4 linked regions of the Homo sapiens genome follow. The protein of the gene in region 4 interacts with the protein of the main gene of each other region in a biochemical or structural test. Each region holds a gene or a part of one and is shown on either strand. Other genes may lie near its edges.

The links.
Region 1: the proteins of UBE2D2 (region 4) and RNF4 form a complex in vitro, tested with the Homo sapiens proteins (8 studies listed by BioGRID, with this or other methods).
Region 2: the proteins of UBE2D2 (region 4) and TRIM21 form a complex in vitro, tested with the Homo sapiens proteins (10 studies listed by BioGRID).
Region 3: the proteins of UBE2D2 (region 4) and CNOT4 form a complex in vitro, tested with the Homo sapiens proteins (5 studies listed by BioGRID, with this or other methods).

The regions. Positions count from the first base shown.
Region 1 is NC_000004.12:2,499,883-2,507,105, forward strand, and holds part of RNF4 (E3 ubiquitin-protein ligase RNF4), read left to right. Parts: intron 1-776; coding exon 777-856; intron 857-7,223. UniProt on the Homo sapiens protein: E3 ubiquitin-protein ligase which binds polysumoylated chains covalently attached to proteins and mediates 'Lys-6'-, 'Lys-11'-, 'Lys-48'- and 'Lys-63'-linked polyubiquitination of those substrates and their subsequent targeting to the proteasome for degradation.
Region 2 is NC_000011.10:4,390,703-4,398,839, reverse strand, and holds the start of TRIM21 (E3 ubiquitin-protein ligase TRIM21), read left to right. Parts: upstream 1-5,137; 5' UTR 5,138-5,207; intron 5,208-8,137. UniProt on the Homo sapiens protein: E3 ubiquitin-protein ligase whose activity is dependent on E2 enzymes, UBE2D1, UBE2D2, UBE2E1 and UBE2E2.
Region 3 is NC_000007.14:135,408,959-135,416,181, reverse strand, and holds part of CNOT4 (CCR4-NOT transcription complex subunit 4), read left to right. Parts: intron 1-919; coding exon 920-1,006; intron 1,007-1,749; coding exon 1,750-1,851; intron 1,852-2,568; coding exon 2,569-2,694; intron 2,695-5,533; coding exon 5,534-5,667; intron 5,668-7,223. UniProt on the Homo sapiens protein: Has E3 ubiquitin ligase activity, promoting ubiquitination and degradation of target proteins. Involved in activation of the JAK/STAT pathway. Catalyzes ubiquitination of methylated RBM15.
Region 4 is NC_000005.10:139,599,224-139,606,446, forward strand, and holds part of UBE2D2 (ubiquitin-conjugating enzyme E2 D2), read left to right. Parts: intron 1-1,148; coding exon 1,149-1,212; intron 1,213-7,223.

The sequences.
Region 1 (7,223 bases), on a different chromosome or scaffold from region 4:
ACGGTGGCTCACGCCTGTAATCCCAACACTTTGGAAGACTGAAGTGGGTGGATCACAAGGTCAGGAGTTCAAGACCAGCCTGGCCAAGATGGTGAAACCCCATCTCTACTAAAAATACAAACAAAATTAGCCAGGCATGCTGCCAGGCGCCTGTAATCCCAACTACTCGGGAGGCTGAGACAGAGAATTGCTTGAACCCAGGAGGCGGAGGTTGCAGTGAGCCAAGATCGCACCACTGCACTCCAGCCTTGGCGACAGAGCGAGACTCTGTCTCAAAAAAAAAAAAAAAAAAAAAGAATTTGCCCTAGATTAACCGATGAAGTTACTAAGCTAAGCCTGACTTTTGGTCCTTGGGCCAAGTGAGAGTGGTCAGCTTCACCTGCTGGGAGGAGCAGAGGTTTCAGGCTAGTCCATCCCAAAGAGAAAGGCCTGGGGCTGGGCATGCATGGTGCGTTCTCCCAGATGGGGCACAGAGGCATAGCCGTGTGGAAGTGGGATGCCGTGGAATAGAGGTATGCACATGCGCACACATACATAACCCCCCAGGTACATTTGTAAAAACCATACCTCCCCACTCAGAGCAGAATTCTGGAAGGGTGGTTACTGGCTTTCCCTCCTGAGGGAGGTGTTGGTCCTGGTGCTCTTTGCAGTGTATACTTCAGGATTGTTTTAGTTTGGGGTAAGCCTATAACATTAGCAGTCATACTAAAGTGTAGAGGGATACAACCTTACTTTCCTCTTAATCTTAATGCTTGTTGAAATACTTTCTTTTGAAGCTGGAGATGAAATTGTGGACCTCACTTGTGAATCTTTAGAGCCTGTGGTGGTTGATCTGACTCACAATGACTCTGTTGTGGTAAGTGTTGGAGTGTGAGAGTCGGCTGTTTCTTGGGTATGGGTCCCTGGCCAGTGCCAGCATCTGACAGCCTTGGTCACAGACTCCAAGTCAAGGTTACAGCTTATGCTAAAGAAGTTCATGCATCTTGTGGAATTGAGCTTTTAGAAAGAAAATAAACAGTAACAATAATAATAACAAAGAAGTTCATGCATTCAGTGACGAGAGCCCAAAATGAAAAATGTTTCTGGAAAATCATTTGTTATAGCCTTGTCGCCTATGGAGTAGGTCTGTGTAACCTGACCTTGCCACACCTGGGCACAAAAGTGGTTTGGGGAGAATCTCAAGACCCCCACATCTGTCTTCAGTCCCTGATTCCACAGTTTACACCAGCTGTGTGACCTTGGGCATGTGACTTAGCCTCATTCACTTTCCATGAAATGGGGACAGGTCACTCATGTCAGCAGGGCATGGTGTAAGACATCTTACAACAGATGCCGTGTTTGAGTGCCTGACACCTAGAATGGTGCCCAGTCACTGTGAGTGTATGCCCTCCCAACTGAAAGGAAAGGGAACGTTGGCTCAGCACTGCCCATGGGAAATCTCTCAAGTTCCAAAAGTGCCTGCTACTTAGCATGGCCTCAGGGGATGCAGGCTCCCTGCATTGCCACCTGATGCCTGCTGCGTCCTGATGCCAGGGAGGCTGGAGCCCAGGAGGCTGCCTGTGTCCCTGTCTCATGGCACCGGTTACAGACTGCAGGGGACGTGTGTATACGTGTCCTGCCTGCCAGGAGGGAGGCCTTGTCTGGTCAGAGGACACACGGAGAAGCTATTTCTGATAGACCTGTTTCATGGTGCATGCAGGTCTGGGAATCTGGTCAGCATCTTAAGGGCAAGTTTGCCTCTGGAAGATGCCACTTGAGTGTTTTCTGACAGTGTGCTCGGAACACAGGTCGGGGTGGGGGCACACTTGGCAGCATTGGCAGTGGGGTGGTAAGTGCTGCTGAGGAGGACTGTGGGGTGTGGGGGCTGCTAGTAGCTGAGTCTTCGCCTTGGCCCTGGGCTCACTGGTGTTGGGGTTATCCTGTTTGGCTGATGCCTGGGTATCTGAATAGGGACACCCCATAGGTGTTGCTTCTTAGTTGTGCTGAGAACTTCAGAATAGGGTTATACTGAGAAGTTTCAAGACTTCAATGCAAAGAAAAGGACAGGGATGGAAAACCATCTGAGATAAGCAGCAGTGGGTTTAGTTGTACGTGGTCCCTGCTTAGGTCTCATTAACGTGTTTTCTGAGGTACATACACACATATGACTTTGCTTATCATCCCTGTGTCCTGCATGGAGTTCTGGAAAGATAACTAATTTGGTATATTAGCTGGCAGCTACAGCACAGTCACTGATTTTTCCCCTCTTTCTTTTTCCCAGCTGACACCTTGGTTTCACCAGTTGCTCATTAAAGCTGGAAAGTGGTGTCTGCAGAAGTTTTTTTGTTTTTTGTTTTTTGTTTTTCTTGAATACTCAGTGTTCACCACAGTCTTCTTGGCCTTCTCTCTGCCAGACCCTGAGGAGAGAGCTAGGATTTTGACTGCAGGAAGACAATGATTGATTGGCTTTTGTTGGCTGACAAACCAACATCATTTCCCCTTTCACACTTGTGTTTTCTTTTGCTTTAGAAACAGGGTCTCAGGCTGGGCGCGGTGGCTCACGCCTGTAATCTCAGCACTTTGGGAGGCCGAGGTGGGCGGACCACAAGGTCAGGAGTTTGACATCAGCCTGGCCAACATGGTGAAACCCTGTCTCTACTAAAAATACAAAAATTATGCGGACGCCTGTAGTCCCAGCTATTCAGGAGGCTAAGGCAGGAGAATCGCTTGAACCCAGGAATCAGAGGTTGCAGTGAGCCGAGATCACGTCACTGCACTCCAGCCCGGGCAACAGAGTGAGACTCCATCTCAAAAAAAAAAAAAAATACAAAAATTAGCCAGGTGTGATGATGCATACCTGTAATCCCAGCTACTCGGGAGGCTAAGGCAGGAGAATTACTTGAACCCAGGAGGCGGAGGTTGCAGTGAGCCAAGATCGCGCCACTGCACTCAAGCCTGGGCGACAGAGCAAGACTCTGTCTCAAAAAAAAAAAAAAAGAAAAGAAAAGAAACAGGGTCTCACTCTGTTGCCCAGGCTAGAGAGCAGTGGCATGATCACACCTTACTGCAGCCTCCAACCCCTGAGCTTAAGTGATTCTCCCACATTATCCTCCTGAGTAGCTGAGACTACAGGTGCATGCCACCATACACTACTAAATTTGGGTCGGGTGGTGGTGGTGATTTTTTAATATTTTTGTAGAGACAGGGTCTCACTGTGATGCCCAGGCTGGTCTTGAACTCCTGGGCTCAAGCAGTCACCCACCTCAGCCTCCCAAAGCACTAGGATTACAGGTGTGAGCCACCACACTGGCCAGCTTTGTTTTGTTTTGATGACTAAGCTGCTCTTGCTAAAAGGGCTTCCTCTCTGAACTTCCCTACCTTTCTTCTGTTTCCCTGGGCTAGGGCTCCATGTTGGCAGTCCTACTCCCAATTAACCTGGGGCTGTCTGGTTAACCTTTATAAGATCTGCAGTCATTGGGAGACCCGGGGACCAGGAATATTGGTGTTGAGGGAGCTACCCTGGAAAGTGGATGGGTGGCCAGAGGGAGAGCTGATAGGTAAAAGGGAGACGCTCCTGGCTTGGGAAGCAGGAGTCCTAGGTTCTGGTCTCTCAGATCTACTGGTCAGTTTGATCAGTGGATTTATCTCACACTGTCCTCAGTGTTGTCAGCCACAAAATAACTGCTTTGGACTTGATAGCTCTTGCTAATCATTCTCTACTTATTTTTGATTTTAATAAGTCCAAGTGCCAGTTTATGAATTTACACTGAGACATATACTTGAGTTTGGAATTCTGCCTCTGAGCAGATCTGTTTGGGAGGCCTCTAATGCTAGTCACTGAGGATAAGGGGCATCTGTAGATGGATCGTGTGTTCAGGGTGACCCTAGGCTGCACCTGCAGGAGAGTATAAAATGGATAAATGTATTCATTCTGGAAGCGGGGTAACCTTCCTTACCAGTTCCGCCAGGACCTGTCGAATAGTTTGAGTGCACTGCTTTAGCTCCAGTAGCTCTGTACCTGTAATATAGGAATCCCTGGATACCAGGATCCAGAGGTAGCCGTCAGAACATCAGGGAACCCTCTAAACTTTGTGCCTGTGGTCCCAGCTACTGGGAAGGCTGAGCAAGGAGGATCACTTGAACTCAGGAGTTCAAGGCAAGCCTGGGCAACATAGTGAGACCCTGTCTTCTTCAAAAAAGAAAAAAAGACTGGAAACTTTGCATACAGGTGTGCACATTCTTCCAACTTTCGAAGGAATTCAAAGCCCCTGAAAAATGAAGGGAAATGAAAAATGCGGTAAGATGCAGTGAGAGACTTTGTTCATCTCATTTGATTAGTTTCCCTCAAAATGAACTTTCATTTTTGGCATTGCATAGCCTAGAAAAGGCATCACTGCTGTGTCCCGAGGTGTGAGTGTCTTTGATTTTTACTGGATAAATGCCAGACTTTTCTAAAGAGGGAGCAGTTCACATTCATGCCAGTGTTTGAGGTTCTCCACATCCTCATGGCCACTTTTAATTTTAGCCATTCTGATGCTTGTCCAGTGGTGTCTCATTGTGGTTTTAATTTGTGCTTTTTTATTACAAATGGGATCAAACACCTTTTCATGTTTATTTTTCTCTTTTGTGAAGTGCCTGTTTAAAACTTCTTTGTTTTATAGCTTTTATTTATTTATTTATTTATTTATTTATTTATTTATTTATTTTGAGACAGAGTCTTGCACTGTTACCCAGGCTGGAGTGCAGTGGCGTGATCTTGGCTCACTGTAAGCTCTGCCTCCTGGGTTCACGCCATTCTCCTGCCTCAGCCTCCAGAGTAGCTGGGACTACAGGCAGCCGCCACCATGCCCGGCTCATTTTTTGTATTTTTTTTTTTTTTTTTTTTTGAGACAGAGTCTCACTCTGTCACCCAGGCTGGAGTGCAGTGGCACGATCTCAGTTCACTCAGTTCACCTCCGCCTCCCGGGTTCAAGCAATTCTCCTGCCTCAGCCTATTGAGTAGCTGGGACTACAGGCACGCACCACCATGCCAGGCTAATTTTTTATATTTTTAGTAGAGATGGGGTTTCACCATGTTGCCCAGGCTGTTCTTGAACTCCTGACCTCAGGTGATCCACTCGCCTTGGCCTCCCAAAGTGCTGGGATTATAAGCATGAGCCGCTGCACCTGGCTGTTACATAGCTTTTTTTTATGCAACTTTCGTATATAAACTTTTTTCATCATAAATAGGACTTTTCACTTTAGTACCTAGCTCATCCCAGTAGCTTTTCCAGAACTGCTGTCTTCACCACAAAGCTCCCTACGTTTTCCCAATGCAAACCTGAGTGTTTTTAGCATTTTAACTTTCCTCACAGAGAAGACATCGTGGAGCGGATAAATAGATTTGCAGGCATTTCTGTGTCTTCTCCAGTGCTGTCTGGAATAATTTTCTCCACCACTTCTTTCAAGTTATTTGTCTGCATCTCTCTTTTTTTTTTTTTTTGAGATGGAGTCTCGCTCTGTTGCCCAAGCTGGAGTACAGTGGTGCGATCTTGGCTCACTGCCAGCTCCGCCTCCTGGGTTCACACCATTCTCCTGCCTCAGCCTCCAGAGTAGCTGGGACTACAGGTGCCCGCCACCACACCCGGCTAATTTTTTGTATTTTTAGTAGAGACGGGGTTTCACCATGTTAGCCAGGATGGTCTCGATCTCCTGACCTCGTGATCCGCCCGCCTCGGCCTCCCAAAGTGCTGGGATTATAGGTGTGAGCCACCGCGCCCGGCCTTGGGTCATGATTTCCATCATCTTAGACCTGTTGGTGCTGAGGTTTTCTTTAACCATTGGTAGTCTAGACATCAACATGAGCTTCAATCATGGTCTGCCTTTTTTTTTTTTTTTTTTTTTTTTTTTTTTGAGACGGTTTCTCACTGTCACTCAGGCTAGAATGCAGTAGCGTGATCTCAGCTCACTGCAGCCTCTGCCTCCTGGGTAGCTGGGACTATAGGCATGCACCACCACGCCCAGCTAATTTTTGTATTTTTTGTAGAGACAGGATTTTGCCATGTTGTCCAGGCTGGTCTCGAACTCCTGACCTCAAGTGATCCACCCGGGTGGTCTGCCATTTTTAAATCACACAACACATTTTGTCATGGGTAAGACCCACGCATGGAAGCTAGGCAGTTTTTGCCCTGAACATCTTGAACAGTCAGCTTGAGTTTTCTGCAAGTCAGCAAGCCTTCAAACATAACCCTTGAGGCCATCAGATACAGTTTTGGTTCCTTGAGTCCTATAAACTTTTTAAATCGTTGAAAAAATTGAACTAGAACAAAGCAAACCATTTGTTGTTTTCTTTTTCCCCCCTGAGACAGAGTCTCGCTCTGTCGCCCACGCTGGAGTGCAGTGGCACAGTCTTGGCTCACTGCAACCTCCATCTCCAGGGTGCCAGCGATTCCCATGTCTCAGCCTCCTGAGTAGCTGGGATTACAGGTACACACCACCACGGCCAGCTAATTTTTGTATTTTTAGGAGAGACGGTTTTGCCATGTTGACCAGGCTGGTCTTGAACTCCTGGCCTCAAGTGATATACCTGACTCAGCCTCCCAAAGTGCTAGGATTACAGACGTGAGCCACCATGTCCGGCCTCCTTGGTTGCTTTTTAACAGCAAATAATCTTTTTTTTTTTTCCAAGTTGTGTGCTTTCTCCAAATTTGTTTTTTTTCTTCTTCTTCTTCTTTTTTTTTCCCTTGAAACAGGGTCTCACTTTGTTACCCAGGCTGGAGTGCAGTGGTGCCATCACGGCTCACTGCAGCCTGTACCTTCTGGGCTCAATTGAGCTTCCTGCCTCAGCCTCCTAAGTAGCTGGGACTATAGGGGTATGTCACCATCCCTGGCTGATTTTTTATATTTTTTTGGAGAGACAAGGTCTTACCGTATTGCCCAGGGTGGTCTCAAACTCCTGGGCTCAAGTGATCCTCCCACCTTGGTTTCCCAAAGTGCTGGGATTGTAGTTGTGAGCCACTGAGCCTGACCTTGGGTCACTTTTCATGAGCATTTTCAGTATGCCAGTCTCTGCTCTGGCTAGAAGCAATGCAGTGGTAGAAAAGAGACTGGCAACTCTCTTTAAGGAATCGAGATTCTTTAAGGGGAAGGTTATTGAAAATGTTACTTAGGCTGTTTTTCTTAAATTTCCAAAGATTGTCTCTTAGTAAGGTTGATTTTTCTGGAATCTTTTTTTGGTCTGTTTCTATAATGTATGAATAAGTCAC
Region 2 (8,137 bases), on a different chromosome or scaffold from region 4:
CTTGTAAGGCAGGCCTGGTGGTGACAAAAATCTCTCAGCATTTGCTTGTCTATAAAGGTTTGTATTTCTTCTTTGCTTCTGAAGCTTAGTTTGGCTGGATATGAAATTCTGGGCTGAAAATTCTTTTCTTTAAGAATGTTGATATTGGCACCCACTCTCTTCTGGCTTGTAGGGTTTCTGCAGAGAGATCCGCTGTTAGTCTGTTGGGCTTCCCTGTGTGGACAGACACTTCTCTCTGGCTGCCCTTAACATTTTTTCCTTCATTTCAACCTTGGTGAATCTGACTATTGTGTCTTAAGATTGCTCTTCTTGATGAGTATCTTTGTGGTGTTCTCTGTATTTCCCAAATTTGAATGTTGGCCTGTCTTGCTAGGTTGGGGAAGTTCTCCTGGACAGTATCATGAAGACTGTTTTCCAACTTGGTTCCATTCTCCCTGTCACTTTCAGGTACACCAATCAAATGGAGGTTTGGTCTTTTCACATAGTCCATATTTCTTGGAGGTTTTGCTTGTTCCTTTTCATTCTTTTTTCTCTAATCTTGTCTTGATGCTTTATTTCATTAAGTTGATCTTCAATCTCTGATATCCTTTCTTCCTCTTGATCAATTCGGCTATTGATTCTTGTGTATGCTTCATGAAGTTCTCATGCTATGTTTTTCAACTCCATCAGGTCATTTATCTTCTTCTCTAAACTGATGATTCTAGTTAGCAATTCCTCTAACCTTTTTTCAAGTTTCTTAGCTTCCTTGCATTGGGTTAGAACATGCTCCTTTAGCACAGAGGAGTTTCTTATTACCCACCTTCTGAAGCCTACTTCTGTCAATTCATCAAACTCATTTTCCATCCAGTTTTGTTCCCTTGCTGGCAAGGAGTTGTGATTCTTTGCAGGAGAAGAGGTGTGCTGTTTTTTGGAATTTTCAGCCTTTTTGCACTGGTTTTTCCTCATCTTCATGGATTTATCTACCTTTGGTCTTTGATATTGGTGACCTCTGGATGGGGTTTTTGTGTGGACATTCTTTTTGTTGAGGTTGACGCTATTGCTTTCTGTTTGTTAGTTTTCCTTCTAACAGGTCCCTCTGCTACAGGTCTGCTGGAGGTCCACTCCAGACCCTGTTTGCCTGGGTATCACCAGCAGAGGCTGCAGAACAGCAAAGATTGCTGCCTGTTCCTTCCTCTGGAAGCTTTGTCCCAGAGGGGCACCCGCCAGATGCCAACCAGAGCTCTCCTGTATGAGGTGTCTGTTGACCCCTCCTGGGAAGTGTCTCCCAGTCTGGAGGCACAGGGGTCAGGGACCCACTTGAGGAGGCAGTCTGTGCCTTATCAGAGCTCAAGCACTGTCCTGGGAGATCCACTGCTCTCTTCAGAGCTGGCAAGCAAGAATGTTTAAGGCTGTTGAAGCTGTGCTCACCGCCACCCCTTCCCCCAGATGCTCTGTCCCAGGGAGATGGGAGTTTTAGCTATAAGCCCCTGACTGGGGCTGCTGCCTTTCTTTCAAGATGTCATGCCCAGAGAGGAGGAATCTAGAGAGGCAGTCTGGCTACAGCAGGTTTGCGAAGCTTTGGTGGGCTCCACCCAATTCGAACTTCCCAGCAGTTTTGTTTACACTGTGAGGGGAAAACCGCCTACTCAAGCCTCAGTAATGGTGGATGCCCCTCACTCCACCAAGCTCAAGCATCTCAGGTCAATTTCAGATTGCTGCACTGGCAGCAAGAATTTCAAACCCGTGGATCTTAGCTTGCTGGGCTCCATGGGGGTGGGATCCACTGAGCTAGACCACTTGGCTCCCTGGCTTCAGCCCCCTTTCCAAGGGAGTGAACAGTTCTGTCTTGCTGGTGTTCCAGACGCCACTGGGGCATGAAAAATCCTGCCGCTAGCTCAGTGTCTGCCCAAACAGCCACCCAGTTTTGTGCTTCAAACCCAGGGTCCTGGTGGTGTAGGCATCCAAGGGAATCTCCTGGTCCGTGGGTTGCATAGACCATGGGAAAAGCATAGTATCTGGGCTGGATAGCACCATTCCATCAGGTCCTTTAAGGACTTCTCTGCATTGGTTATTCTGACCTAAAACCACAAAAACCCTAGAAGAAAACCTAGGCAATACCATTCAGGACATAGGCATGGGCAAGGACTACATGTCTTAAACACCAAAAGCAATGGCAACAAAAGACAAAATTGACAAATGGGATCTAATTAAAGAGCTTCTGCACAGCAAAAGAAACTACCATCAGAGTGAATGGGCAACCTATAGAATAGGAGAAAAATTTTGCAATTTACTCATCTGACAAAGGGCTAATATCCAGAATCTACAAAGATCTCAAACAAATTTACAAGAAAAAAACAACCCCATCAAAAAGTGGGCAAAGGATATGAACAGACACTTCTCAAAAGAAGATATTTATGCAGCCAACAGACACATGGAAAAATGCTCATCATCACTGGCCATCAGAGAAATGCAAATCAAAACCACAATGAGATACTATCTCACAGCAGTTAGAATGGCGATCATTAAAAAGTCAGGAAACAATGGGTGATAGACAGGATATGGAGAAACAGGAGCACTTTTACACTGTTGGTGGGACTGTCAACGAGTTCATCCATTGTGGAAGACAGTATGGTGATTCCTCAAGGATCTAGAACTAGAAATACCATTTGACCCAGCCATCCCATTACTGGGTATATATCCAAAAGATTATAAATCATACTGATATAAAGACACATGCACACATATGTTTATTGTGGCACTATTCACAATAGCAAAGACTTGGAACCAACCCAAATGTCCAACAATGATAGACTGGATGAAGAAAATGTGGCACATATACACCATGGAATGCTATGCAGCCATAAAAAAGGATGAGCTCATGTCCTTTGTAGGGACATGGATGAAAGTGGAAACCATCATTCTCAGAAAACTATTGCAAGGACAAGAAAACCAAACACCGCATGTTCTCACTCATAGGTGGGAATTGAACAATGAGAACACATGGACACAGGAAGGGGAACATCACACACTGAGGCCTGTCCTGGGGTGGGGGGAGGGGGGAGGGATAGCATCAGGAGATATATCCAATGTAAATGAGTTAATGGGTGCAGCACACCAACATGGCACGTGTATACATATGTAACAAACCTGCATGTTGTGCACATGTACCCTAGAACTTAAAGTATAATTTAAAAAAAAATCTAAGGCCTCAAACTATGAAACTACTACAAGAAAATATTGGGGAAACTCTCCAGGACATTGGACTGGGCAAAAATTTCTTTCAAATATTCCATAAGCACAGGCAACCAAAGCAAAACTGGACAAATGAGATCACATCAAGTTAAAAAGCTTCTGCACAGCAAAGGAAACAATGAAGTAGAGAGATAACCCACAGAATTGGAGTAAATATTTGCAAACTATCCATCTGACAAGGGATTAATAACCAGAATATACAAAGAACTCAAACAACTCTATAGGAAAAAAATATAATAATCTGATTCAAAAATGGACAAACGATCTGAATAGACATTCCTCAGAAGAAGACATACAAGTGGCAAATGGATATATGAAAATGTGTTCAACACCACTGATCATCAGAGAAATGCAAATCAAAACTACGAGATATTATCTCACCTCAGTTAAAATGTCTTTTAACCAAAAGAAAGGCAATAACAAATGCTGGCAAGGATATGTAGAAAAGGGAACCCTCATACACTGTCAATGGGAATGGAAATTAGTACAAACACTATGGCAAACAATTTGAAGGTTCCTCAAAAAAAAAAAAAAACCTGAAAATAGAGCTACCATGTAATCTAGCAATCCTACTGGATACTGCTAGGTATATACCCAGAAGAAATACTGTTAGGTATATATCCAAGAGAAAGGAAATCAGTATATCAAAGAGATATCTGCACTCCCATGTTTATCGCAGCACTATTCACAATAGCCAAGATTTGGAAGCAACGTAAGTGTCCATCAACAGATAAATGGATAAGGAAAGTGTGGTACACATACACAATGGAGCACTATTCAGCCATAAAAAGAAGGAGAACCTTTCATTTGCTACAAGATGGATGGAATTGGGGATTATTATGTTAAGTAAAATAAACCAAACACAGGCAAACAAACAAATTGTTATGTTCTCACTTATTTGTGGGAGTTAAAAATTAAAACAATCCAACTCATGAAGATAGAGAGGATGATGGTTACCAAAGGCTGGGAAGGGTAGTGGGGAATGATTAATGGGTTCAAAAATACATGAGAGAGAATGAATAAGATCTAGTATTTTATAGCATAACAAGGTGAATACAGTCAATGATAATTTATCATTTTAAAATAACTAAAAGCATATAACTGGATTGTATATAACACAAATGATAAGTGCTTGAGGTGATGGATAGATACCCCACTTACCCTGATATGATTATTACGGATTGTATGCTCTACCTGTATCAAAATATTTCATGTACCCCACAAATATATACACCTACTATAGACACACAAGATTGAAAATTAAAAAAATTACTTTGGTAAATTTTATGTTCTATATTTTTACGATTAAAAATAAAAATAATATAACCTGAGAATGTCCCTAGCTCAGTGACAAGAACACAGTTGGTTGTCAAATGTCAATTTCCTTCTCACCACTCACTGGTGGGACACTCACCTTGGGGTCATGCGAAATAAATCACTCACCTGCAGGCGTTAAAAAATATTAGTCACATCAGTCACATGAAAATAATTAGCTTCTGGAAGTAAGCAGATGGTGGCACGCGAGGAAGAGCACCGGCCACTCTTCTCTGCATCAAAACTTCCTTAAAAGCATCTTCCAGACATGGACATAGCGTCTAGGTGTGGAGTGATGACCAGTGTCAAAGAAAGCAGCCCGGACTCCCCCGTCTTGTAGATATTTTACCAAATCAGATAATGAAGACATGGGAGGGAGCGCGCAACCAGGACCACGGGCTACTGAGTTTCCACTCCTTCCCAGTCTCAGAGAAGCCTCCTGGGCATGCAGAGCCTCTGAAGCCTCCCCCAGCTCAACTCTGACTTCTCTTCTCAGCCGCATTTCTCCACACACCCTTTCAAGGCTCTGCTCCTCCCACTGCTCCTCCCTCACTCCTCCCACGGCTCCTCCTCCTCCCTCCCCTTTCCTCTCAGACTTGCTTCTGAGCGGAAACTGAAAGTGAAATAGGGAGCTGGCTACCAGCGTTGAGTCCCCTGTAAAGGTGAGTGAACCCCACTAGATCAAGGGACCCCTGCCCTCCTAGGGGACCTCTCTCCCCTGCCCCAGGGTTGCAGAGCCCCTTCCAGTCTCCATCCTTGAGCCGGTCCCATTTGCCCCTTCTCCCACCAGGGATCCCTCAACCCAAGACCAGCTGCGCTTCCGGTGCTGGCCCCCTGCTTGGGAGGAGGCTGGGGTGTGGACCTGACTGCCGAGTTACCCAGAAGGGGAAGGGGCCCGGCTGCCCCCTACCTGGGAGGAGGCTGGGTTGTGGACGTGACTGTGGAGTTACCCAGAAGGGGAAGGGGCCCGGCTGCCCCCATGCTGGCACCTGACCTAGGATGACGGCTGGGTGTGGCTGGGATAGCCAGGACTACAGCCTAGCCAGGAGGGTAGGGAGCCCAGTGTCGGGGAGGTCTGCAATTCTGGAGACTCCCAGGTCCAAAAGTCCTCCAGAGGTGAGAGGGGCAGGCTGTTTAGGATGTTCAACCAGAAATGTATAGGCCTTCAGAATTATTCTTTGTCCTAGAATAAGTGTTGTCAGGAACTAAACTAAGTTTGGAGCAGCTGAGAAAAGAGCCCAGGGAGTGCTGGCCACGGTTCCTGTTACTCTGTGTGTATACATACATATACACCTACATACATATATGCAACTGACTTCCGCCGTTATAGGAGGGATTAATGAAGATATATTCAAAGCATGAAGTATCTCTGGCACATGGAAGGTACATGGTAAAAAGTAGCTATAATTTCTCAGCAACATGGAGGCCTGTTGGTACCCGACAGGAGATGGATGAGCACTGAGGGTTTAAGCAGGAATGGACATGATGAGAGTAGAACTGTCAACAGCTTTATGAGGTTCTTGCCAATTTTCATTCCCTCTTTTAGGGACTCAGTTTCTCCTTCTGTCTCACTGGATCAATGGACCAAACAATGGAGGAGTTCTTGTTATTCAGAACAGGAATAAACTTATTCAACAAACTGTTTGATCGGTGCAAAAGTAATTACTGTTTTTGACATTAATTGTTTTGCCATTAATTTTATGCCTTGTTTTGTTTTGTTTTGTTTTTGAGAGGGAGTCTCGCCGTGTCACCCAGGCTGGAGTGCAATGGCACAATCTTGGCTCACTGCAACCTCTGCCTCCCAGGTTCAAGCAATTCTCCTGCCTCAGCCTCCCAAGTAGCTGGGATTACAGGTGCCCACCACCACTCCCAGCTAATTTTTGTATTTTTAGTAGAGACAGGGTTTTACCATATTGGTCAGGCTGGTCTTGAACTCCTGACCTAAGGTGATCCACCCACCTCGGCCTCCCAAAGTGCTGGGATTACAGGTGTGAGCCACCGTGCCTGACCCATTATTTTTATTCTTATTTTTTATTTTCCTTTGCATCATTTTGTTTTTCTTTTTTTAGTATATTTTTAATTTTTGTGGGCACATAGTAGGTATATTTATGGGTATATGGAATATTGTGATACAGGTATACAATGTGTAATAATCACATCAGGGTAAGTGGGGCATCTATCACCTCAAGCATTGATCATCTGTAATACAAACTATGCAATTATACTCTTATTTTTAATGTACAATTAAATTATTGACTATAGTCACCCTGTTGTACTATCAAATACTAGATCTAATTCACTCCACTTTTGTACCCATTAACCATCCCATCTTCTCCCCCACACACAGACCCTCCCTATTACTCTTCCCAGCCTCTGGTAACCATCTTTCTATTATCTAACTCCATGAGTTCAATTGTTTTAATTTTTAGCTTCTACAAATGAGTGAGACCATACAATGTTTGTGTTTCTGTGCCTGGCTTATTTCACCTAACATAATGACCTCCAGTTCCATTCATGTTGTTGTGAATGACAGGATCTCATTATATTTTATGACTGAACAGTACTCCATTGTGTATACATACCACATTTTCTTTATCCATATATCTGTTGATGGACTCTTAGATTGCTTCCAAATCTTGGCTATTGTGAAACGTGCTGCAGTAAACATGGAAGTGTGGATATCTCTTTGATATACTGATTTCCTTTCTTTGGGGTATATGCTAGCAGTGGGATTGATGGATCATATGGTAGCTCTATCTTCAGTATTTTGAAGAACCTCCAAACTGTTCTCTGTAGTGATTGTACTAATTTACCTTCCCACCAACAGCATATGAGTGTACCCTTTTCTCCACACCCTCACCAGCATTTGTTATAGCCTGTCTTTTGGAGAAAAGACATTTTAACTGAGATGAGATTATATCTCATTGTAGTTTTGATTTGCATTTTTCTGATAATCAATGATGTTGAGCAACTGTTCATATGCCTGTTTGTCATTTGTATGACTTCTTTTGAGAAATGTCTGTTCAGATCTTTTGTCCATTTTTGAGTCAGATTATTATTTTTTTTCCTATAGAGTTGTTTGAGCTCCTTATATATTCTGGTTATTCATCCCTTGTCAGATGGATAGTTTACAAATATTTACTCCAATTCTGTGGGCTGTCTCTTCACTTTGTGGATTGTTTCTTTTGCTGTGCAGCACCTTTTCAACATGATGTGATCCCATTTGTCCAAGTTTGCTTTGGCTGCCTGTGCTTGTGGGATATTTGAAAGAAATCTTTGCCCAGTCCAATGTCCTAGAGAGTTTTCCCAATGTTTTCTTATAATAGTTTCATAGTTTGAGGCCTTAGATTTAAGTCTTTAATCCATTTTGATTTGATTTCTGTATACGGTGAGACATAGGAGTGTAGTTTCATTCTTCTGCATGTGGATATCCAGTTTTCCCAGCAGCATTTATTGAAGAGACTGTCCTTTCCTCACTGTATGTTCTTGGTAGCTTTGTTGAAAATGTGCTCACTGTGGATGTACAGATTTGTTTCTGGGTTCTTTATTCTACTGGTCTATGTGTCTGTTTTTATGCCAGTACCATGCTGTT
Region 3 (7,223 bases), on a different chromosome or scaffold from region 4:
AGTTACATGCAGAAAGCTTTCATTTGCAGAGAGCTTGCTATTTGGAGAGATTGTAGGAACAGTAGGTCTAAAGATACATTCTAGGAAAACAGAATTTTGAGGTAGTTGCAAATTATGTGAGATGTCTTTTTATCAAGTTACATACCGGTCAAATTAGCCAAGGTTAAGTTTGTAAGAGAAGCTGAAAGAATGCATATAGTGTTCACAAAGTAAAGGAGATGAGGTACGTAGGTACCACCAAGAAGTAACCAGGTAATAAAGAAAGAAACGTGTAAATTTGTTTCCGAAATGTTACGTACCAGGAAAAGTAGGGGAAAAAGCCTCATGAGACAGATGAGAAATGGTAAAACTGATTGACATAGGAAACTGTATGCACAATGATAAATCATAAAGCATAGAGGGTTGAGTGGGCACTCTGTTACTTGAAATTTGTGATTTATAAACAGTGTTATATGCAATAGATTTATGAGTAAAGACTGTCTTTATGTCTGTTCTTTCAATTCTGTCTTTACCTTTAATACATAATTTTGGTCATTGTTTTTGAAGAATTGCTTTCGTGTAAGGATCATCTCTTAATGGCAATGTAGTTAAGATCTTTGATCTGTTTTGTGTTTAAGAATACTGTACAGGTAAGATCCCATAGACTATTGGAGCAGTTATTAGAACATAGTAGATAATACCAAATTTAGTGAGTCTCAGTTTCTATTCAGTGGGTCAAGAAAAAAAATAGCTTTTAAACTCTTTTGATTTCCTATAGGTTAGCTACACAAACTGCAATTAGGAGGTAGTGACATTTATTAGAAAACTTTAAAAATTATCTTTTTCCTTTTGCTGAAGAGGGATGATGAATGTCTCCATTATAAGGATAAAGTTGTTTAAAATGGGGACAGTTTATACCTTATTTCTTCTTCTTTTATAGGTTTTAAAACGACCAGAATATTTTGGGAAGTTTGGTAAAATACATAAAGTTGTCATCAATAATAGCACATCATATGCAGGCTCACAGGTAACTAATTTTAGGGATTTTTGCTTTTCCTCCCTATGGTCTGGGCTTGACCTGGGCTGTTCCAAAGGAAACTTTGCTCTCTCTGATTAGAAAGCTTGAGGGACAAGGACTTAAGCAATGTAGTGACCTCTGTTGGTGGGGTGGGGGATTTTTTGCTGCTTATTTGACCCTTCTAGGACTTAACAATTAAGAGGGAAATAGTAAAACAAACATTTAGTGATGGAGTGAAAGGGAGGGGGAGGTGAGTCTGTTATCAGGCAATGTGATAAATAGATGAGGATTCGATAGTGATTTCTAATCTGTAATATTTTCAGATATTGAAAACTTAATAGTGTCTTTGTTATGCTGCTGTTATCAGATAGAATAGTTTTCCAGATTGCATTTATTTTTGAGAATGTAATTTGACATAGTCTTTAAGTCTTATTTTTTAATCTAAATTTTAATTTTTTTATAACCTTGACGAGCCTGTCAAATGACTGTCTAAAAAAATAAATCCCAAGCCAAAGTAATATTTTATTCACATATATTACAGTATTCTTAAAATCAGATAAAATTCATTGAGTATTATTACTTTCAAATGAGCTAGTTTAGTGTTTAATCAAAACTGCCACTACTACTACTAATTATTGTCATTAGTAATAGTAGTAGTCAGGGTCTTTAGAATTCCCTAGGTTGCAGTAGAATTTTTTTAGTATTGTTTAATTTTTAACTAATAACAGTGGAATGGGATGTTTTCACTTTAGGGTCCAAGTGCCAGTGCTTATGTAACCTATATCCGGTCAGAAGACGCTCTCAGAGCCATACAGTGTGTCAACAATGTGGTAGTAGATGGCAGAACACTTAAGGTAATATAGTCCTCTTGATTCTTTTTTTTTTTTTTAAGGAAGACGAGATAAAATATAGTAAGTAGAGGAGAACTGAGCATTTATATATTAAATTTGACAGTTAATTTGAAGAGTCTGTCTTAGGGTCCATACCATCTATTATAGCTAATTTGTTTACTGCTGGTTTCTGTAGGGTCCTCTTTTACCAGATAGGAATAAACACATTCATTATCGGGGATAATCTTTTAAAATATCGCATTTTTACATATATCTTATTTTGTGAAAATAGTACCATTATTTTCTTCAGAAATAGGTAGTCCTTAAATATATGGACATTGATTCCAGTTTCAGTGAAGAGTCCCACTAAGCAAAGCTTTACTGTTAGTGGAAGGAGGATGGCATAATTAGAAAAAGGAATTTGCCTTCTTATGTGTCTAACCACTCATAACATGGAACAGATTTTTTTGTCTATCTCCTCTCCTTATATCTAGGGAAGATTTGGGTGTCCAAGTTTTGGAAACCATAGACAGATGTTTCCTTTAGTTCTTCCAAATGAGCCTCATCTATAATAAATCCTGCTAATAAGAGTTTAGTTCTCTAGTATTTGCAGCCATACTTTTTGTTTTGTCATGTTTGTGCCTCATTTTAGGTGACTTGAAAACACTAAACATGGAGATTCTCATTGTGTTGTCAGTTCACATTGAGTCTTCTTTTCCTTTACCCCTCTTCCTCCTGCAGGCATCTCTAGGTACAACAAAATACTGCAGTTACTTCTTAAAGAATATGCAGTGTCCAAAACCTGACTGCATGTATCTTCATGAATTGGGGGATGAGGCGGCCAGCTTCACAAAAGAGGAAATGCAGGTAGTAAAGTCATGTGAATTATCAACTTTGCAGAAAAGGGAGTACTTTTTTTTTTATTAGTTAACATTGCAAAAGCAAAAACTAAGGATTTGATTTTGTAAAAACTGATATTACTTTAAAGTAGCATTTGCCAAATGAAGTGTTTAATGGAAGGTCAGTTCTGCAGGATATTGTTACAATAAAAATGTGTCTGTGGTCAACTAAGTTTGAAATGCTAGATTAATGAAGATGAACAGGTTTCTTTGCTTTAAGACTTTTCAGAGTCCTTAATATGCTAATACAGATCCACGAAGGGAATTTACAACCAGAACTTAGTTGACCAGGAAAACACTTTGGGAAATGCTATTTTAAGGGGAATGTCAACAAAATGAAAGCTAAGTGGGATATTGTAATTATTTGTTAAACCAATCTATACTCTTTACAGAGCTTGCTAGAAAATAATACTCTGTCAAATGATGCTGATAAACTAATATTATTTTTACAAAATTATTCTCCCCATGCAAGTGTCCACTGAGTCAGTATCCTGTAAAGGGTGAATTGAAGGCTTAATATCCTATGTTCTTTTTTACATTTCCTCTTCTCCTGTCTCCTTTCAATTTGTAGTATAAACATGCCTTAACAAGTAAAAATGTTGACCATACGACATATTAAATGAGGATTATACCAAAGCACAATGCTGCACTTCCCTATTGTAGATGAGGACTTCAGATTGTTGCTGTGGACTTTTCAGGAATACTTCTCATTTAGAAGGTGGGGGGCATTCATTGCTACCTTTCATTCTCCAGGTCAAACTAGAGAAAGTCTGGTAGGGGCTCCTTTAAGAAAAGATTGTTAAATGGAGTATTACCTTTTTTGACTTGGAGCTAGTACAGATTAAATCCCATTATAATAAATACATCAGAGTTTTCTTGATAGTATGGTCTTTATGATTCAAAAACAATGTTAAAATAAGGTCTATCTGATATTTAATAAGGACAGATGACTTAACTGATTTCTTAATGCTTTTTTTGTTTGTTTTTTGGATGAAACCTTCTTGAATGAAATCTAAGGTAGAACCATTTCAAAATTTCAAACTAAATTTTAATTAGTAGAGGGTATACTTTATTCATATTTCCTATCAATTTCTGTCTATCAGAATTTACAAGTCCCACCCAGTTGATCTCATTTAAAGTAATATTAAACAATAAAATAAAATGTATGGGCTGTCCTTTGGAACTTGTTTGTAATGGGATTTAACCTGTCTTTATGAACTGCCCCTGTAGAGTCATTTTAATATCAAGTTGAGCTCTTTGTGGCTTTCCACAGATATTAGTGAAAGCCGTATCTCCTGAAGTATTGATTCCAGAAATAATTTTCAAGACTTTTCATGTTTTAAAAATGTAAATTTCACATCTAATGTATTTTTAAAAATAATTTAAAACTAATTTCATAATGTTGTCCTGAATTTATCTTGCTCTTCTTTAGCTGAGTTTAAAATTACTTTAAAAGGGGATTTTTTGTTGTTGTTGTTAAAACACTTTCTTGATGTAGGAAAGAAATTTGAATAAATTTTATGGCAAAAATCAGAAAATCTTTCCTTGTTACTGCGTAACTCAAAATTTAGTGCCATAGGAAATATTTATAGGTCCAATAGAAACAAGCAAGTGGCCTCTCAGAACAGGGAACGATGCATTGTGCAGTATATATGACACAATTATGCTCAGTTAAGTGCAATTGCCCTCACTTGTTATTGTTTTGATTTGTTCCGTTTTGGTTTTGTTGTATAACATCTATTTAGACCATAATTTAAAAAAATTAACATCCCTGAAGGTAAGTAAAACTATTCTTCCAGTCTAGATATACATGCAAATAGTAAAATGTTACTCAAAGTAAGTTCATTATCATTTATTTTTGTGTCTAATTAGCTTCCACAGGCAATCTTTGCCTAATTTTTCCCATAATATTTGTGACATTGCCTTTTGATGTACACCTACCCAGCTAGAGTAAGCATAGCATTCTTTTGTGTATAGAGCAGAGGTTGGCAAACTTTTTCTGTAAAGGCCAGTTAGTAAATATTTTAGGGTTTCTGAGCTATGTATGTAGTCTTCTGTCACAACTACTTTACTCTGCCTCTGTTGCACTACTACATCCTGCCTTTGTAGCAGAATGGCAGCCAAATACAATATGTAAATGAATGGGCATGACCATGTTCCAGTAAAACTTTATTTATAAAAACAGGCAACTGGCTGTAAATTGCTGACCCTGGGTCTAGAGTTTAAAATACATTAATTTTTATTTTACTTTTGATAACCATAGAAGAAAAGAGAAAGCAAAAACTAATTCATGGAAGTTTTACTTAGTGTCAAGATAATGAAGAATATAGTAAAACTGTTCATCTATGTATTACTTCAAGTGCTAATCTCCAAATTAAAAAGGAGACTGATGAATTTTGGCTGATTTTCAGAAAACTCAGTGTTACAAGACTTAATTCTTACATGAAAGACTTGGAAGTAGGTTTAAAGTGGACCTTACACTTTTTGAGCTAGCAAAAATGTTCTTCCCTTAATATGCTTTTCTGTACAATAAATGGGTTGATGAAATGCCTTAATTTAATTTATCAGATATATATCATATAATTTTGTTGGAATGACTTTCATTGATCTAGAAGTTTTGTGATATCCTCACAGGTTTCTCTTACTTGTTTTATTTAAAAATTTATTTAAAATTTATTTAATATTTTATTTTTTAAAAATATTATTTATTTTATTTAAAATATATTTAATAATTCAGAAGATTATTCAGTATTTTATACCAGCCATTTTGTGAATCCCACTGCAGTTTTAATTTCTTCTTTCGTTAGGCGGGTAAACACCAAGAATATGAACAGAAGCTACTTCAAGAATTATATAAATTAAATCCCAATTTTCTTCAGCTATCTACGGGTTCAGTTGATAAAAATAAGAACAAAGTGACACCACTGCAGAGGTACGATACGTAAGTATTGATATTGATAGTCAGACATCTTACCTTCTTATCAGTTGATCTTCTCTTTTCATTTTAGATCTTTTTCAGGCAAAATCCTTGTTGACAAGGTCTGTCATTTATGCAGAATTGTTTAGCTGTATGGGAAATGTTGAGTCACAATTTCTGGGTTTGAATGCTTGCTGCCTACTTTTCCCTGGTAACACTTCAGACTAGCTTTTTGATGGGTTCACCTTTTGTGGTGATTTGCAGACTACTCTGAGCCCAGGGAATACTTTCCTTATTAAAGAGAAAATTAAGGGATTTTAGGTTTTAAAAGGCTCTGATTACCTAATTGAGGTCCCCCTTGATATAATTAGGGGGAAAATACTATAAAAGGGAAAGTGGGTGTTATCTGAAGGAAGCCTTGTGTGTTGGGGACACAGATATTCAAGGATATCTAGTTCCAGGAATCACTAAAGTCATTTAAATCCTGTAAATGAACAGGGAGTATCCCATATTCAGAATCTTACTTATCTTAGGAGACCAGTCATCTCCTATCTTCCATCTCATTATGGTTTTGGGTAAACTATATTGTGTCAATGCTTAAATAAATTTATGGTCTTCAGTAGAGAGTCTCATTCTGATATGTTGATCTTCTTATCTTAGATTATATTTTGTTATGGCCTGTCAGAAAATCATATTAATAAATATAATTTGGGAATTTTATTCTATCCTGAACTTTCTTTAAATTTGATGTGTTAGGTTTTTTGTTCTTTTTTATTTGATAAGTTTAACTTTTATCAAATGAATTTTAAAAGTAAATGTTGTAATTAATTTATGTTGATGATCTTTTTTTAAAATTCCAAAGTTAAATTTGTTTGAATGTTGTCCTAATGTCTAGGTGTTAAATATTATAGCCCAGTGTCTGTTTGGTGCTAAAATGATGTAAGAACTATTTTCAAACATAGCTAATAATAACTACATGGATTATTGTTTGAGTCCATTTCTTCAAAAACACATTCTTTAAATTTTGAAGTCTGTGTTTATTCATTTTAAGAGTAAAGATTATTTAAATTATTAAAAACTAAATTAGACACATATATATGTGTATGTAAATATAAATAAATATAAAATAGGCCACAAAGCGAAACATAAAGTTACTGTATAGTAAACTATGTAAAATTTGTTTATATCAAAGCTAAGAATAAAAGCTAAGTCAAAACAGATCTTTCTGGTTTGACAAGCTTTGATCTTTTCCTTTAATCTTTTGTACCCACCCTTTTCTAGCCCTGTATGGTTATTTTATGGCAAACCATATGCTATTACTTATCTTATTCGTTGCCACCTCTGTAGTGCTTGGTATAAGAATGAAGTTATTGTAGTAAACAGTGGTTTATTTTAGATGCTTTTAACATTTATGCACATCATTGTTTGCATTAAAAATGTTGTCATTCTAATTTAAGTCAAATTCTGGGTTTATAGCCCTTGGTGATTTCAGAGCAAAAATTTAAAATTTAGATGATCTCTTTGAGATAACATTTGTTGTCTTCTGAATATAAAACTATATGTTTTTATTGAAGGAAATG
Region 4 (7,223 bases):
TGTGCCCAGCCTAAAATATATTCCTTCAAAGTTTTTTCTACTTTTAGAACCCTGGTAGTGGACTTCCACTGAAAGCATATCAACTTGTCAGATGGTCCAGTATAATTTTGGAACATTTATGACTTTAGGAGCTTGTCCCAAGTGTAACCTAATAGTTTTGAGGTACAAAAATTGGCCTTAAATTTTTTTTTTGAAAAATAATAAATGAAATGTTTACATTAAAACAATTTTGGCCAGGCGCGGTGGCTCACGCCTGTAATCCCAGCACTTTGGGAGGCCAAGGTGGGCGGATCACCAGGTCAGGAGATTGAGATCATCCTGGCTAACACGGTGAAACCCTGTCTCTACTAAAAATACAAAAAGTTAGCCGGGCGTTTGGGTCGGGCACCTGTAGTCCCAGCTACTCGGGAGGCTGAGGCAGGAGAATGGCGTGAACCCTGGAGGCGGAGCTTGCAGTCAGCTGAGATTGCGCCACTGCACTCCAGCCTGGGCGACAGAGCAAGACTCCGTCTCAAAAAACAAACAACAAACAAACAAAAAAAACAGTATTTTTGGCTCTTTAATACATAATACATGTTTTTTGTTTGTTTGTTTTTTTGAAATGGAGTCTCGCTCTATCACCCAGGCTGGAGTGCAGTGGTGCAATCTTGGCTTACTGCAACCTCCGCCTCCCTGGTTCAAGGGATTCTCCTGCCTCAGCCTCCTGAGTAGCTGGTATGACAGGCATGTATCACCATGCCCAGCTAATTTTTTCTATCTTCAGTAGAGACAGGCTTGTTGGCCAGGCTGGTCTCGAACTCCTGACCTCAAGTGATCTGCCCGCCTCAGCCTCCCAAAGTGCTGGGATTACAGGTGTGAGCCATCACGCCCGGCCCATAATACATGACACATGTTTTACCTTCCTGATTGTATTTATTTGCTAAGCTCTGAACAAAGCAAAAATGACCCACTTTAAAAAAATACACATTGCCTTGAAGAATCCAAAATACCTTAAAGATTCACCAATCTACTCATCTCTTACTCTGAAGGAATGCTCTTAAGAGAGTTTCACCAGCAGGACAGAGAATATTGGTAACAATATAAACTTTAGTAATGGATAAAAGGTACATTTATGTTGAATATATTTCTTTTCTTTCTTTTTTCTGTAGGAATTGAATGATCTGGCACGGGACCCTCCAGCACAGTGTTCAGCAGGTCCTGTTGGAGATGATAGTAAGTATTTAAAAGGAATAATGGAGTAATAGCATAACAGTGGTTATTTTGTGTGAAGAAACAATTATGGTATAGGGAAGAGGCAGTGTTTAACCCTTAGTGGCCCATGAAGGGAGCAACTCTATGTTCATCCCATTATCATCTGTGTTGTTCATTACATTTTGAATCTTCTGCCAGGTATTGGCTATGTAGTTGTTCTAGTCCTCTCCTACCTTACCTTCATCCCTTCTGGGTATTTTCCTGGAGTGAAATATTTAAGCTTTTACCTACAACTAGCTATTATTCTTGAGTAAGATAATACTAAGGATGATAGTATGTGTGTCTGTGTCTGACTTTCTACTGACTCATACTTGCGAAATCAGGTCTTTATTTATTTTTTTCTTGAGACAGGGTCTCGCTCTGTCAAGCCCGGGCTGGAGTGCAGTGGCGTGATCTCAGCTCACTGCAGCCTCTGCTTCCTGGGTTCAAGTGATTCTCGTGCCTCAGCCTCTCGAGTATCTGGGATTACAGGTGCATGCCACCACGCCTGATTAATTTTTGTATTTTTAGTAGATTCGTGGTTTCGCCATGTTGGCCAGGCTGGTCTCAAACTCCTGGCCTCAGGTGATCCGCCCGCTTTGGCCTCCCAAAGTGCTGGGATTATAGGCATGAACCACCACACCTGGCCAAAAGCAGGTCTTTATTTTTAATGTCCAATTTATCTGCTTAATTTTGTCTAAAAAGATGATCTTAATGCATACATTAGATGATAATTTCCTCTTTGTTCCACTTCATTTCAACATAATTTTTTCCCATATAGTGTCTTTTAACTTTTTTTAAAGAGGGGATATTTGAATGAGACTATGCTATGTGATGTAAAACTAATTCACAAAAAACTGTAACATTTGGTTGGGTGTGATGGCTCATGTCCCTAATCCCAGCACTTTAGGAGACCGAGGCAGGTGAATCAATTGAGCCCAGGAGTTCAAGACCAGCTTGGTCAACATGGTGAAGCCCTGTCTCTACAAAAAACACACAAAAAAATTAGCCGGGTATGTTGGTGCATGCTGGTAGTCCGAGCTACTTGGAAGGCTAAGGTGGGAGGTTTGCTTTAGCCTGAGCCTGGGTAGCAGAGTTTACAGTGAGCCAGGACCATGCCACTGCACTCCAGCTTGGGCGACAGAGTGAGACGCTGTCTCAAAAAATAAAAACAGGACGGGGCGTCATGGCTCATGCCTCTAATCCCAGCACTTTGAAAGGCCGAGGCGGGCGGATCACGAGGTCAGAGTTTGAGACCATCCTGGCCAAGATGGTGAAACCCCGCCTCTACTAAAAATAGAAAAAAATTTAGCCAGGCATGGTGACAGGCGCCTGTAATCCCACCTACTTGGGAGGTTGAGGCAGACAACTGCTTGAATCCAGGAGGCAGAGGTTGCAGTGAGCTGAGATTGTGCCACTGCACTCCAGCCTGCGTGACAGAGTGAGACTTACTCTCAAAAAAAAAAAAAAGAAAAAAAAATTTGTAACATTTAACAAATATTTTAAAGTATGCATACTTACAAACACTTGTGTAAATATGTAGATTCAGACCAAAATGAGTACATGGTTAAATTAGCTTATGTTTAATATTTTTTTGTTTGTTTGTTTTGTTTTTTAAGATGGAGTCTCACTCTGTTGCCCGTGCTGGAGTGCAGTGGCGTGACCTCGGCTCACTGCAAGCTCCGCCTCCTGGGTTCATGCCATTCTCCTGCCTCAGCCTTCCAAGTAGCTTGGATTACAGGCACCTGCCACCACACCTGGCTAGTTTTTGTATTTTTAGTAGAGACGGGGTTTCGCCATGTTGGCGAGGCTGGTCTTGAATTCCTGACCTTAGGTGATCCACCTGCCTTGGCCTCCCAAAGTTCTGGAATTACAGGCGTGAGCTACTGCGCCTGGCCTCAAATTGTTTTTTCCTGATTTTTCTTAATAATGTTGTGTCTGGGCCCAGCCCAGTGGCTCACACCTGTAATCTCAGTGCTTTGGGAGGCTGAGGCAGGCAGATCACTTGAGCCCAGGAGTGCGAGACCAGCCTGGGCAACATGGTGAAACCCTCTCTCTACAAAAAAATACAAAAATTAGCCTGGCCTGGTGGTGCATGCCTGTAGCCCCAGCTACTCAGGAGTTTAAGGTGGGAGGATCGCTTGAGTCCAGGCAGTTGAGGCTGTAGTGAGCCAAGGTTGCACAACTGCACTCCAGCCTGGGCAACGGGAGCGAGACTCTCTCAAAACAAAAACAACAACAACAACAACAAAAAACGGAAAAAAAGAATGTGTCTGGTCTGCTAAATCCTGAAGAATCAAAGCAAGGCCCTTTCACAAGGATTACTTTACAAATAGATAAATATTATAAATTATGAGTCTAAGTACATGTCATGAAAAAACTCATTTACATTATTATATTCTGACTTACCTAGCGTGAGTAACTATAGTATTTGGTACCAAACAAGGCAGGCTAAGTACTTAAACTATACAAAATAATTTAGTAAGTGCTGTTACACACGTTGTCTCATTTAAGCCTTACAACAACTCATTTAGGTGAGTGGAGTAGAAATTTTAAATTGTTTTAGAAAAAAGTCCCATGAGAATCTCATGGAGATTCTCCATGTGAACTCACTCTCAGGTTTTCTGATTCTAGTTTGTCCTTCCACTGTATCATATGGGCCACATACATCAGTGTACTCTTTCTATTCAGTTGGAAAAGTGCTTTTAGGTAAATTCCTCCAAGTTAAGAATGGCTGAAAATCTTTAATTAAAAGTGGTTGGAGTCAGGGGATTTGATTTCAATTTTGAAGTTTTCTTTAGCATGCTAAAGTAATTTGTCTTTGCTTTGCTTCTGCCATAGTTAGCACTATACATTTCTTTCTCAGGTTGAAAAATTGTTCCCTTTGGAGAGTTAAATAAAACTCTCCCACAGCCGAGTGCGATGGTTCACGTCTGTAATCCTAGCACTTTGGGAGGCCAGGAGTTCAAGACCAGCCTGGCCAACATGGTGAAACCCTGTCTCTACTAAAAATACAAAAATTAGCTGGGCGCGGTGGCGCCTGCCTATAATCCCAGCTACCTAGGAGGCTGAGGCAGGAGAATCGTTGGAACTGGGAGGCGGAGGTTGTGGTGAGCCGAGATCCCGCCACTACACTCCAGCCTGGGTGACAGAGTGAGACTCTGTCTCCGAAAAAAAAAAAAAAAAAAAAAAAGGCTGGGTGTGGTGTCTCACGTCTGTACGCCTGTAATGCCAGCACTTTGGGAGGCCGAGGCAGGTGGATTACCTGAGGCCAGGAATTCAATCAAGACCAGTCTGGCCTTGAACTCTGGTGAAACCCCGTCTACTAAAAATAAAAATACAAGAAATTAGCCAGGTGTGGTGGTGGGAGCTGTAATCCCATCTATTTGGGAGGCTGAGGCAGGAGAATCGCTTGAACCCGGGAGGCAGAGGCTGCAGTGAGCCGAGATCACGCCATTGCACTCCAGCCTGGGCAACAAGACTGAAACTCCGTCTCAAAAAAACAAACAAACTCTCCCAAAGCTAATCAGTAAGAGAAAAAAATAGATATTATTAGACTTCATCAAAATTAAATATATACAGGCTGCAAATGATGCCATCACGAAAGTGATAAAACATATAGAATGGAAGAAATTGTTGCAAGTCATATATCTCATAAGGGACATATATCCAGTATATTTTTAAAACTTTTTTTTTTTTTTTTTGAGACGGAATCTCGCTTTTGTCACCCAGGCTGGAGTGCAGTGGTGCGGTCTTGGCTCACTATAACCTTCGCCTCGTGGGTTCAAGCAGTTCTCCTGCCTCAGCCTCCCGAGTAGCTGATTATAGGCACGTGCCCCGCCGCCCAGCTAATTTTCGTATTTTTGGTAGAGATGGGTTTCACCATGTTGGCCAGGCTGGTCTTGAACTCCTGACCTCAAGTGATCCGCCCACCTCTACCTCCCAAAGCGCTGGAATTACAGGCATGAGCCACCCCACCCAGCTGTTTAAAAACTCCTATAACTCAGTATAAAAATAAATAACCAATTAAAAAATAGTCAAAGGATCCGAGTAGACATTTCTCCAGATAAGATGGCTAGTAAGCACACGAAAAGATGCTCAACATCATTTGTCATTAGGGAAATACAAATCAAAACTACAGTGAAGAAGAGCCAGGCACAGTGGCTCATGCCTGTAATCCCAGCTACTGGGGAGACTGAGACTGGAGGATCACTTGAGGCCAGGAGTTTTATGCCAGCCTGGGCAACAAAGCAAGACCCCATCTTTAAAACTAAAAATTAGCTGGGAGTGGTGGCTCATGGCTGTAGTCCCACCTACTCACAAGGCTGAGGCAGGAGGAACACCTGAGCCCAGAAGTTTGAGGCTGCAGTGAGCTATGATTTGGCCACTATACTCTAGCTTGGATGACAGGTTGAGACCCAGTCTCTAAAAAAAAAAAAAAAACAAGTATTGATCAGATCTTTCTGATGAACCCCACATAAGAGTACATCAAGTATGATTGGATAGCTAAATGTCCTTTTGTCATTTTATTTTTGTTATAAGGAGTCAGAATTTAATCTTAGAAGAAGGAAGAGAGAAACTGTTGGCCTTTTGAAACTTTTGAGCTCCTTTTGACTATCCTGGTACCCAAATCCCTCAGTACCACATGTTATTGATATTTAGTGTAAAAATAAAGTGGAGACTTGTGCTTTATTTTAAAACATCCAGATTTTAATGTTGATATTTAGTATAAAAATAAAGTAGAGATCTGTGCTTTATTTTAAAACATCCAGATTTTAATGTACTAGTAAATTTTTTTTCACTTTCCTGCAAAGATCTGGTAAGCAGGAAGAAATGTACATCCTGAAAGAAGTAAGCAGCCGGGCCCGGTGGCTCACGCCTGTAATCCCAACACTTTGGGAGGCCGAGGCGGGCGGATCACGAGGTCAGGAGATTGAGACCATCCTGGCTAACATGGTGAAACCCCGTCTCTACTAAAAATACAAAAAATTAGCCGGGCTTGGTGGCAGGTGCCTGTAGTCCCAGCTATTCAGGAGGCTGAGGCAGGAGAATGGCGTGAACCCGGGAGGTGGAGCTTGCAGTGAGCCAAGATCACGCCACTGCACTCCAGCCTGTGTGACAGAGCAAGACTCTGTCTCAAAAAAAAAAAAAAAAAAAAAAAGAAAAGAAAGAAACAAATAAGCTGAAGATTTAATGGCCATATATCTGTTTCCTTCTCTCTTCCCTCCCTTCCTTTCCCCCTCCTCCTCCCCTCCCTCTCTCCCTCCCTTCTCCCTCGTCTTCCTCTCCTCTGGTCTTCTTTAAAGGCAGGGGCTCACTCTGTTGCCCAGGCTAGAGTGCAGTGGCGCGATTGCAGCTCACTGAAGCCTCAAACTCCTGGGCTCAAGGGATCCTCCCACCTCAGCCTCCTGAGTAGCTGGGACTATGGGTACATGCCCCTACACCCCTGGCTAATTTAAAAAAAAAAATTGTAGCAATAGGGTCTCACCATGTTTCCTACGCTGGTCTTGAAATCCTGGGCTCAAGTGATCCTCCTGCCTCTGCCTCCCAAAGCCCTGTGATTGCAGCTGCGAGCTACCGCACCCAGCTTTCTTTTCTTTTGAACAGTTGGTAAATGTGACTCTCTTGAGATCTGTGCATTCAAGTGTAGGTCTCTGGGGATTCAGTCTCATACTATCAAATATTCTCACTGTCCCCTGCTGTTTTGTTTGTTTGTTTGTTTTTTTGAGATGGAGTCTCACTCTGTTGCCCGGGCTGGAGTGCAGTGGCGCAATCTCGGCTCACTGAAACCTCTGCGTCCCAGGTTCAAGCAATTCTCCTGTCTCCGCCTCCCAAGTAGCTGGGATTACAGGCATGCACCACCACGACCGACTAATTTTTTGTATTTTTAGTAGAGACTGGGTTTCACCATGTTGGCCAGGCTGGTCTCGAACTCCTGACCTCAGGTGATCCACCCACCTCGGCCTCCCAAACTGCTGGGATTACAGGCTTGA